Regions from separate parts of the Homo sapiens genome. Here region 1 is linked to region 2. The links come from fine-mapping of genetic effects on gene expression. A gene starts in region 2. The other region holds a variant in brackets. All regions are shown on one strand. Distances are from middle to middle.

Region 1 (5,370 bases), 510 kb before region 2:
TAGTCATCATCCAGCTTCAGCAATGATCAACTCATAGCCAATCATGCTCCACTCACATCCCCCACTTTCTCCTCCTGGGTTGATATCTATATATATATTACATATTTTATATATACATATATGTGTGTGTGTGTGTGTGTGTGTGTGTATATATATATATATATATATATATATATATAGAGAGAGAGAGAGAGAGAGAGAGAGAGAGAGAGAGAGAGAGATACTAGAGACAGGGTCTCACAATGCTGCCCAGGCTGGTCTTGAACCCCTGGCCTCAAGCAATCCTCCCACCTTGGCCTCCCAAAGTCCTGGGATTACAGGCGTGAGCCACTGCTCCCAACCCTGGGTTGATTCTTGCAACCGGTTCTGCTGCTGTTATGGGTGACATGTTGTTTATCCTCAATCCACCTCTGAGAAATGGACCTCTCTGTGCTCCACCCCTTGACCTAAACTCACCTTCTGCAATGCCCATGGTCCCTGCCTTGGCCTCAGGTGGCAAGGTCTTTATAGTCTGTGGCTTCTTGTCTCTATCTCAGGCCTCTTTGGGACCACCAGTCCTCTTGGCACTTCTTGCCTCCCCCATCTGGGGATCCCAGGGATCTTGGCTACTTACGTGCTCCATAGGGAAGTGTACAGGACTCAGTGGGAGCTGTCCCCAGACCCATCACTTAGGCATCTCCCTTGGCTTCTGCTTCCTTTCATCTCTGAGCTATGCAGTCTCCCCAGGTTATATTCTCAGATCTCCCTTTGCCTATTGGGGTGACACAAGGGAAAGAGGTGGAGGGCAGGGGCAGGCAGCAGGCTGCAGCAGTACCTCAGCCTCCTCACACTCTTTCTCAGGGTCATGCATGGGCTTTTCTTTTGTCTCTTCTTGTGTAGCTGGAAATTTCTCTGCCCTCTACCCCAACCCCCACCTCCTGCCACCCTCTGCACACGGAGGCTTACCAATAGGCTGCTAACACCTCCCGGTTTTCCCAGGACAGTCATGGTTTGCACTTGGTATTTCCAATGTATTTATCAAGATTGCACCTTTCACTCTCAAAATCTATGGTCACCTTTTTAAAGGTAAAACTCTATGCAAAGCTATTTGTTGACACTTGATATGAAAGCACAGCTTTGAGAGTGCCCAGGAAACATTTTTTCTTTCAACCCACTGTAGCTCTTCTACATAAGTGCCTGCTTCCACTAACTTGTGGACTTGAGCAAACTCAATTTTTTGAAACAAAGCTGATCGACTTTTTCACACTAAGCATTTCCACCCTGGCAGGGTGGGGATGGAGTAGGGTGGTGCCCTCCTGTAACATGGGTGTATGTGTGGTCAGCGGGATGCTGGTCAGTCCACTCAAACTGCCTGGCATGGCATGGCGGTGGCTGTGGTCATCTCATTTTGGATTTAGCACGTGGGACACAAAGAAGCAAAAGACAAGGCTCTGGAGACCCTGGGGCTGTGTGGTCAGAGCTGAGGTTGGTGATGTATCAGGTGGGAGGCTTGAAAGCATAGGGTGGGCACCCTGGGGACAAAGAGATGAGATGCCATCTGGGAATCCTTTCCCATTGGTGGAAGAGAACTGCAGGGGATGGGCCCTCACTTACTGAGCTACCTTCTTAGGGCCTCAGCAGGCTGGGCCAGTGTGAGGGCCAATGCAATTCTTTATTTATGGGAGGGCTGTGGGCACATATCTCTTGGGGACACCATGTCATCTGAGGGAGGAGCAAGATTGAGGATACTCGGTCCCCCTAGAGTGCTCTGAGATCTACTCCCATCCCAAAGCCACAAGCACAGCCTCCCCTTCTACACTTCAGTGTTTCAGCATATGATACGTGTTCTCAGAAAGAGTTCCTCCTGCAGCTCAATCCTCAGCAATAGTAAGGAGTGACAGGAAGGGCCTCTGAGGTCTGCCTCTGAGAGTCCCACCAGCAGCCTTACCCCTACTGAGGAGGGGAGAGTGGCTCCAGTGATCTAGGCCAACACTGGCCACAGACCTCACTGTTAAAGAGGAGTCTTTCTCCTGACTCCCATCCCATGCCTCACTCACCTCCTCTTCCTTGGGGCTCTCCAATGCCCACTGCCCACAGGTCCCGACCATCCCTAGCTTCTTAAGGCCCCTGACCACCAGCAGGACACCCAAAGTGGAGTGGTGGTGAAGGCTTTGGATGAAGCTTGGCTTTCTTGGGCTAGCCCTTGAGTCTCATTGCTCACAGTTGGGTGGTGCCATCTTCTTGAGATCCTGTCTATCTGGGACAAGAGGTCTCACTCATGTTCCCCTCAAAAGCCCCTCCCATTCAGCCCCCAGCTACCAAGCTGTGTCTTCCTGTTTCCAAAAGTTTTTGACCCAAAGTGGTGCTCCCACTGGATTCCTATTTCACTTGGCATTGTTAGCATATCAGAGAGCAGGAAGCCTTGATGACCTGTCTCCTGTGTTCAGCATGAAATTCTGTAGAGCATCCTCAAGTGGGACTACATGGGCCAGCTGAGAAGGGCTTAACTCAGCAGTTCCCAAACCAAGACTGCACTTTGGAATCCTGATGCCAGGCCTCATACCCGTCCAGTTAAAGCAGAATCCCTGGGTGGATCCAGGTATCATTATTTTTTTTAGTGTCCTAGGGGATTGCAATGTCCTATGTTGAAAATATATAACTCAGAGACTTAAACCATTGCCAATCCAGGTTTTAAACACCTCTCACTCTTGGGGTAGCACCTAAGGGGTTAGTCATGCAGAGTTCCTATTATGCCCAGCTGCAGACCTATCTAGTTTCATACCACTTGCTGCTGTGAGTAGGAGGTGGGCAGAGCTGTATCCAGCACCACTGAATGGGTTCCCTTGGAAGAGCGGGATTCAGTCAGAAAGTCCAGGTACCCAGTTGCTTCACTGCCACCTGCAGCTACTGCAGATGATGGGTGTCAGGCTGAACCCTGAGCCCTCACATCTGCTACAGCTGTTCTGGAGACTCACCCCCAACACACACACACACACACACACACACACACACACACACACGGATTAGGGAAAGTGTCACCCAGCTGCAAGGCATGAAGACCCCTGCACACCTCCCTTCCCACCGCTCCTGCAGGGCCCACCATGGAAAAACCCTGCGGAGGGTTGCAGACCTCAGACTTCTGGGATGGAGGTTCACACAAACATCTGAGGGACACAAGCTGAGAGTGAGGGGCCTTGGGCATGGATGACAAACCAGAGACAGTGAGAGACCACATGAGAGATGGTTGCGCCATAGGTGCCCAGAGACAGAGAGAGACTTAGCAAAGCAGTAGCCCAGCAGCACCCACCCAAGGCAGGCCCAGCAGACGGTGAGGCATCCTGGGGGGAGGCCAGAGAGGGGACATGGGGGTGGAGGAGGAGCACAGCTGCTTCTGAGGACAT[T/G]ATAGGATTTAGAGGCTGTGTGCCCAATGACCTCCAGTGGCAGAGGGACAACCCTTTCCCCTGCCTATCCCTAGTCCTCTGTTTGTTTACCTGCCCCCATGCCACCCCCACAACCATCCCCCCACAGCCCCCAAGTCTCTCTCCCCTCCCTGATCCCATGCCTGGTTCTCCAAGGAAGTGCCCAGCAGAGGGGAGGGAAGCCTTGTTGTTCAGCCCCAGGGTGGGCAGGCGGCAGGCACAGCTGCTGCCCTCAGCTCCTGCTCTGGCTTCCCCAGGGGCTGGCTCTGGCTGGCTGCTCCCTGACTCCCTTCCCCACCATAAGGCACAGCGTCTGTCCTGCTGTTGCCCAGCTGAAGTGCCATGTCCTCCTGGCTCCCTGCCAAGCACTCTGCCGGCCCTGAGGGCCTTGCCAAGCACAGGCCTGTGGAATCCTGGCCTTCCCAGCTGGCCCTGGCTGCAGCCAGATTCTCTGATCTTCTGATCTGAATGGAGATGCCTGGACAGGGGCTGCAGGAAACTAAAGCCCAATGCCTACTCCCACTGTGGAAGGGGCCAAAATCAGGCTGACTGAGGCATCATTGCTTGACCTGGGCCCTGGGGTCTCTCTTGGATGCAAGACTGTCCCGGTATGCTGTTAGGAACAGGGGCCTAGGTTGGTGACCTGAGGACAGGGGCTCTAGACCACACCAGGGAATCTTTCTGGGGGGAAGGCAGAAAACTTAGAGGCTGAACCCTCCTCCATGAGTCTAATCTCCAAAGGGCAAGTGTATGGTCAGTAAGGGTCTTTATTGGAAGAGAGATCCAGCCTCCTTGGCTCTGTCAGCGCCCTAGGTCATGAGGATTTCGATGTCAAGCTCCAGCCGGCTGGCTCTGACCTCATAGTGGCCCCGGATCAGGCCTCGGGTTTGGCTGGCATGCCAGCGCCAGTGAGACTGGATGATGCAGGCCGCTTGGCGTGCCTGGAGGAACCGCCTGCGGGCCTGCCACATTCGAACCTGTGCCTGCACCTTCACCACCGCCCACTCCTGGCAGGTATAGAGTCTTAGTGCCAGGCGCCGTCTTTGCTCCAACATCTTGGCCTGCATTGACCTCCACCAGCACTGGATGACCCAGGCTCTGAGTGCTGCCTGCAGTAACGTCCGGCGCACCATGTTTCCACGCCACCATGACTGAATCTTTATGGCTGTCTTCTCTAACTGATTGGGGGAAAGGAAAAACAGGGAGATGCTCAATGGGGGACCCTCCCCTCCTGTTCCTATCCCCATCTCTGATCTTGGGAGGAAAGAAGGCCTGGCCCAGGTGCCCCTGACTTCTTGTTTCTAGGGCCCATCCATCTTGTTTCCAATCCCCCACTCACATTTAGACACGGTTCATTACCTGTCAGGTAAGTCCCTACTGCAAGGGCCTTACTCACATTTTGCGTGTCCATGGCCTTGATCCTTAGGGTCCACTTATCTGTCACTTAGGCCACCCTTGTCTTTAGCCCCACCCTCAACTGTTAGTCACACCTCCATCATTGGACTCCGCCCACTTGCACACAAGACTCTACCTCATCAGGTCCCGTCTGCACGCATTTTAACCACATTTCTCTCTCCTCTTCTCTTGCTTTCATCTCTTTTGCTTTATTGATTCCCACCACTTTGGGAGCCTACCATTATCTCTTGCCTTCAGTTTATTTCTCAGCCCCAGTGGCATTCCTGATCCTCCTGATGGCAGTGAAGAGAGAGTCATGCAGCTTACCTACAAGGAAGGAGTTTTACTTTAAGCCTCTACTCATAGCCAATTTGGATTTCCTGAAGCTTAAGTGTCAGGGCGCCTGTCAGGGCCCGAGGAACGTGTTTACAGAGCTGTATATTTTTGGGTAAAATTTGTGAAAGCAAGATATTTCAGCTGCAATTGGAGAGGACCTCTGTCTCTCTTCCCTCTTACTCCCTCTGTCACTCACCTCCTGTTGAGTGGGGTGGAATGGCAACCTCTTTTGCCACGAGAC
Region 2 (5,370 bases):
GGCTCACACCTGTAATCCCAGCACTTTGGGAGACAGAGGCAGGAAGATGGTTTGAGCGCAGAAGTTTGAGACCAGCCTGGCCAACATGGCAAAACCACTTCTCTACAAAAAATACAAAAAATTAGCTGGGTGTGGTGGTGCACGTCTGTGGTCCCAGCTACTTGGGAGACTGAAGTGGGAGGATCACTTGAGCCTCGGAGGTGGAGGTTGCAATAATCCAAGATGATGGCACTGAACTCCAACCTGGGTGACAGAGTGAGATCCTGTCTCAAATAAAAATATATGTATATATAAGAAAAAGAAAAATCCAGGGAGAGAGCTGGAAGTGGGGGCCAGAGGAAGGGAAAGGTTCATGACAAGAGCACAGCATGGTTTGGAGACCTAAGGAGAGATGTAGCAACTGCCAAAGGGAGCAGGTAGGGGGTGTGAAAAGAAAATAAAATTTTAGGACATTCCCAATTTATAATGTGAAGGAGAAAAGTGAAGCCCTGGAAACTGAGCAGGCATTGCTTTTTTTTTTTCTTCTCTGATGCATGACTGCTGCTTCCTGATCTTTGTATTGAAATGTTATACATTAACCAGGCTCCCTATTCTTCATTCAGACTTAGACTAGATGATGTGGGAGATAGAGACCCTTGTGATTGTTGTCTCTTTACAATAGAATGTTAAGCAAACTCCTTCCAGTATAATCAATAGTAGCCAACCAAATCTTGTATTTATGTTAGCCTTTTTTTGGAAAATGTTGTAATTCTGGTCAGCACTCCTGTTTTTGCCTATATAAACAATCTTTTTTTTTTTTTTTTTTGAGACGGAGTCTCGCTTTGTCACCCAGGCTGGAGGGCAGTCACGCAATCTCGGTTCACTGCAACCTCCCAGGTTCAAGCAATCCTCCTGCCTCAGCCCCACCAGTAGCTGGGATTACAGGCACACACCACCATGCCTAGCTAATTTTTGTATTTTTAGTAGAGACGGGGTTTCGCCATGTTGGCCAGGCTGGTCTTGAACTCCTGACCTCAGGTGATCCACCTGCCTCAGCCTCCCAAAGTGCTAGGATTACAGGTGTGAGCCACTGTGCCCGGCCCATGCCCAGCTAATTTTTGTATTTTTTAGTAGAGATGGGGTTTCACCATATTGGTTAGGCCAGTCTCGAACTCCTGACCTCAAATGATCCCACCTGCCTCAGCCTCCCAAAGTACTGGGATTGCAGGCATGAGCCACTGCACCTGTCCCAAAAACACATTTCTAATGTCAACCTAAAAATCATCAAAAGGTTCGATATCCAGTTAAAAGAATTTATTCAAGCATAAAGTGTGAGGGCAGCCATCCAGGGAAACACAGACACCAAGCAGTGGCAATTAGTGTTCTCCAGCATGGGGAAAGATGAAGGTTGTTTATATAGGCCGGGCGCCTGTAATTGTTTATACGCCTGTAATCCCTGCACTTTGGGAGGCCAAGGGCGGTGGATCACAAGGTCAGGAGTTCGAGACCAGCCTGGCCAACATGGTGAAACTCTGTCTCTACTAAAAATACAAAAATTAGCTGGACGTGGTGGCGGGCGCCTGTAGTCCCAGCTATTCGGGAGGCTGAGGCAGGAGAATTGCTTGAACCTGGGAGGCGGAGGTTGCAGTGAGCCGACATCGTGCCCAGGCTGCAGTGCAGTGGCCGTGAGCTGAGACTGTGCCATTGCAGTCCAGCCTGGGTGACAGAGCAAGACTCCACCTCAAAACCAAGAGAAAGAAATGTGTTTTTGTTTGTTGGTTTTTTTTTGAGACAGGGGCCCAGGTTGGAGTGCAGTGGCGTGATCAAGGTTCACTGCAGCCTCTACCTCCCAGGCTCAGGTGATCCTCCCATCTCAGCCTCCTGAGTAGCTGGGACTACAGGAGCATGCCACCACACCTGGCTCTTTTTTTTTTGGTAGAGATAAGTTTCGCCATGTTCCCAGGCTGGTCTCGCATTCCTAGGCTCAAGCGATCCGCCCACCTTGGCCTCCCCAATGTTGGGATTACAGGCGTGAAACACTGCGCCCTGCCAAGAAACATGTTTCAATAAAATTGTTAGGAAATCAAGTGTGTGATTTGTGATGCAACTCTCTCCTCTATCTCCCTAAGAAAACATCAGTAAAAACAGTGAACTGTTTTGTATTTTTGGAGTCTGATCAGGACTCATCTTATGAATGTGGGAAGGCATCCAGCCAACACAGGGTAGGCCCCGGATGAGAGTAGGGACAGCGAGGTAGGCCCAGAGTCATTAGCGTTTACATGCCGCTTATGTGCTTGAGGATCGCAGAATGGAACTCTTGCTAAGCCAGAGCTGTATTTGGTGGCCCATGGTGGGAGAGGGAAGAACAATAATAAGTTGTGGAATAAAAGCCATGGAGAGGAGCGGGAATTACTTAATCTGGCTCCAGAAGGGGTGAGTTGTGGGGAAGTAGTGATTCTCAGTTCGTTTGCTCAGCCCAGTCAGTGCCTGACACTCAGGGTGCATCTGCTGACTGACCGTACAGGATAAAGGAAGGGAGAGGCCGGGTGCGGCGGCTGAAGTCTGTAATCCCATCACTTTCGGAGGCTGAGGTGGGTGGATCGCTTGAGGTTAGGCGTTCGAGACCAGCCTGGGCAACATGGCGAAAGCCCGTCTCTACTAAAAAATACAAAAATTAGCCCGGAGTGGTGGCACATGCCTGTAATCCCAGCTACTCGGGAGGCTGAGGCATGAGAATCGCTTGAATCCGGGAGGCGGAGGTTGCATTGGGCCGAAACCGCGACTCTGCACTCCAGTCTGGGCGACAGAATGAGACCCCGTCTCAAAAAAAAAATCGGCAATCGGTGAGGCGGGGATTATTACCCTCAATGTAGAGATTTAAAAAATGAGGACTGAAGGTGACTCCTTCCAGGTCTGTCAGTGGCCAGCAAAGAGCCAATATGCTAAACTCTCCCCTCCCGGACACCGGCTTCAGCCAGAGCTCGCACCCGCCTGCGCCGCTCCACCCACCCACACTTCCGGCTTCCGCTCCGCCCACCCCCTAGTACTTCCGTTCTCCAGCGCTGGGCACCGCGGCCGGAGCTGTGGGCTGGTAAGTCTGCGCCGCCAGGGCTCGCATGGCCTTCAGAAGCGGTCCCTGGGCTGGGCGATGACGGGTCCTGGTGGCAGCAGGCCCTTCTTTCTCGCATCACCGGGCATTACGCGGCAGCCATTTCCCTCGCTAAGGCCCTACCTTAGGATGACGTCACTTCCGGCCCCCTACTGTCTAGGGAAAGCCGGAAATGGTACCAGCCTTCTTTGATGGCGGGGAGGAGTCAAGACCGGTAGTCTTCCTATTTCCGTTGTTTTGCTCTGGAGCCTCCCGGAGTTTCGGAGAGACCGTGTCTTGGATAGAATTGGAGGACTTAGCAAATAAAAATGCAAAGCGTCCAGTTACATTTTTTTTGAGTTAGAATCTCACTCTGTCACCCAGGCTGGAGTGCAGTGGCGCGATCTCGGCTCACTGCAACCTCCGCCTCCCCTGTTCAAATGATTCTCATGCCTCAGTCTCCCGAGTAGCTGGGATTACGGGCGCCCACCACACCCGGCTAATTTTTGTATTTTTAGAAGAGACGGGGTTTCACCACGTTGGTCAGGCTGGTCTCGAACTCCTGACCTCAGGTGATGCGCCCGCCTCAGCCTTCCAAAGTGCTGGGATTACAGGCGTGAGCCACTGCGCCGGGCCACGTCCAGTTAAATTTGAGTTAAGATAAACGACGAATAATTGTTAAGTCCTAAACATTGTATGCACATACTTATACTTTAAAAATTACTTGTTTATTTGAAATTCAAATTTAACCGGAAGTCCTGTATTTTCTCTGGCAGCCTTAGCATTGAGCGTCCCCCTGTCCTGTGCTCATACCCAGTGGCAAGGCTGGGATCTTCTAGGCTCTTGTCCATCTGGGAAATAGATACAAATTTCATCCAGGCTATAAAGACCGGCTGTCTTAGTTGCTAAGATGCTTTTAGCTCCAAGTCCAATGGGCAAGCTCCAGGGGTCCCCCTGGCCAAAACTGGACCCATTTTCGGAATCCCCATGACGATGCCCTCTGTGTTCCCTTTCACAACAGAAGTCAGGCATGGCTGTCTTTTCTTACCGGAGAGCTGAGAACTAGGCAAGCAAAATGGTCAAAGTCTAGAAGTAACCACCATATTTGGGTGTGGGGTAAACCGGTGTTTGAGATCTGTGTTGCAGTGGACAGTATCAGAGAGCCTGAGGTTGTTAAGGGAAGAGCGTAGTGTTAATCTCACCCCATGTCTCATTTTGCGGATGAGGCCCAGTGAGAGAAATGGAGGTGTCCCAGCCACTCAGAAAGCCTATAGTAGAGCTGGAACCTCAATTCCCAGCCTCCTTACCCTGCTCAGTCCATACTTGCTGATGAAGTCAGCTTGCAACATTTATGGTAGGCATTTATTAAAGTAGATGCAATAGTACATATGTAGTACAGATGAGCTGTTTGGGTCTTTGTTGTTCCTATACCCCTCTACAGCTTCCTGACCTTCGCCCCAAGGCTTCTTTAGCTTTTACTCTGCCCAGTGGGGAAAATGGCTATGGGCTCAGTTATGGGAGCCTGGCCTTTGCCTACTTCAGCCCTTGGGCTCTCACCACTGTGGGTGGTGTGACCTAGGACTTGTTTTTGTTATCTTGGAACCAGAAGGCGTGTTCTTGGCAGGGTTGGGTCTGGCCAACTGTGTGGGTAGAAGGGCATCCTTTTCTGTCCTGCAATTGGGCTTCATGGCACATGGCCTCACATGGTGCCTGGGGACTTTTCTAAGGTTCCACCATGAGCCAGACTTTGCCCTCACTCCTGATTTGAACCTAAACCTCTTGCTGAACTGGTCCTGCATACTGAGATTCCTCAGATTGCTTGCCCTGAGGATGTGTTCTGGGTTTGACCTGATAAACCTGCAGCCTCCTATAGACCCTGACTTCCCAGGCTCCTAATCCCAGTCTCATGAGATAATGAAATAGAGAAGACTGGAGGTCAATGGGCTCAGGGTCAGTTGGTGGGACAATCAACAGCTTCCTGGCAGCAGAGGTGGTAAAGAGGCAAGGAAGGAGTGCCAGAAAGGGGCGTTGCCCCAGGGTAACAGCGCAGAAGTGCAGGGGGTGGAAAAGGGGTGGGATGGGAGCCCACTGGTAGAAATTACTCCCTCTGTCAATGATTAACTCCCAGCCAAAGGGGTGACCTGGGAGGAGGGCCCAGCTAATAGGAACTTTGGACTTGAGGCAGAGTATCCAGAGGGCCGGCATGTGGTCTGCAGAAGAGGAGGACGTGGCTGGGTGGCAGGGCTGGTCTCCAAGGACGAGTAAGATCCTGCAGCTGCAGGCTTCAGGAAGTCTCCTGGGGC

The links. PIP is the estimated chance that this variant, and not a neighbour inherited with it, causes the effect.
Region 1: its variant is fine-mapped to the expression of GLYCTK in atrial appendage (GTEx, PIP above 0.99).

Annotation. Positions count from the first base shown.
Region 1 is chr3:51,774,416-51,779,785 of GRCh38, forward strand. It overlaps IQCF6 (IQ motif containing F6), which reads right to left and starts at 4,822. Exons shown (of 2, transcript NM_001368369.1): 1 at 4,738-4,822; 2 at 4,148-4,576. The coding sequence starts at 4,809. The coding sequence ends at 4,208. The region is part of intron 2 of LOC105377087 (a long non-coding RNA gene); the gene reads left to right. The variant T/G (reference allele first, on the strand shown) is at 3,381.
Region 2 is chr3:52,284,807-52,290,176 of GRCh38, forward strand. GLYCTK (glycerate kinase) reads left to right here and starts at 3,022. Exons shown (of 5, transcript NM_145262.4): 1 at 3,022-3,070. GLYCTK-AS1 (GLYCTK antisense RNA 1) reads right to left here and starts at 4,927. Exons shown (of 1, transcript NR_046719.1): 1 at 3,774-4,927. LOC107986086 (a long non-coding RNA gene) reads right to left here and starts at 3,214. Exons shown (of 3, transcript XR_001740699.2): 1 at 3,027-3,214. RefSeq lists enhancers at 2,607-3,348, 2,654-3,853, 2,680-2,789.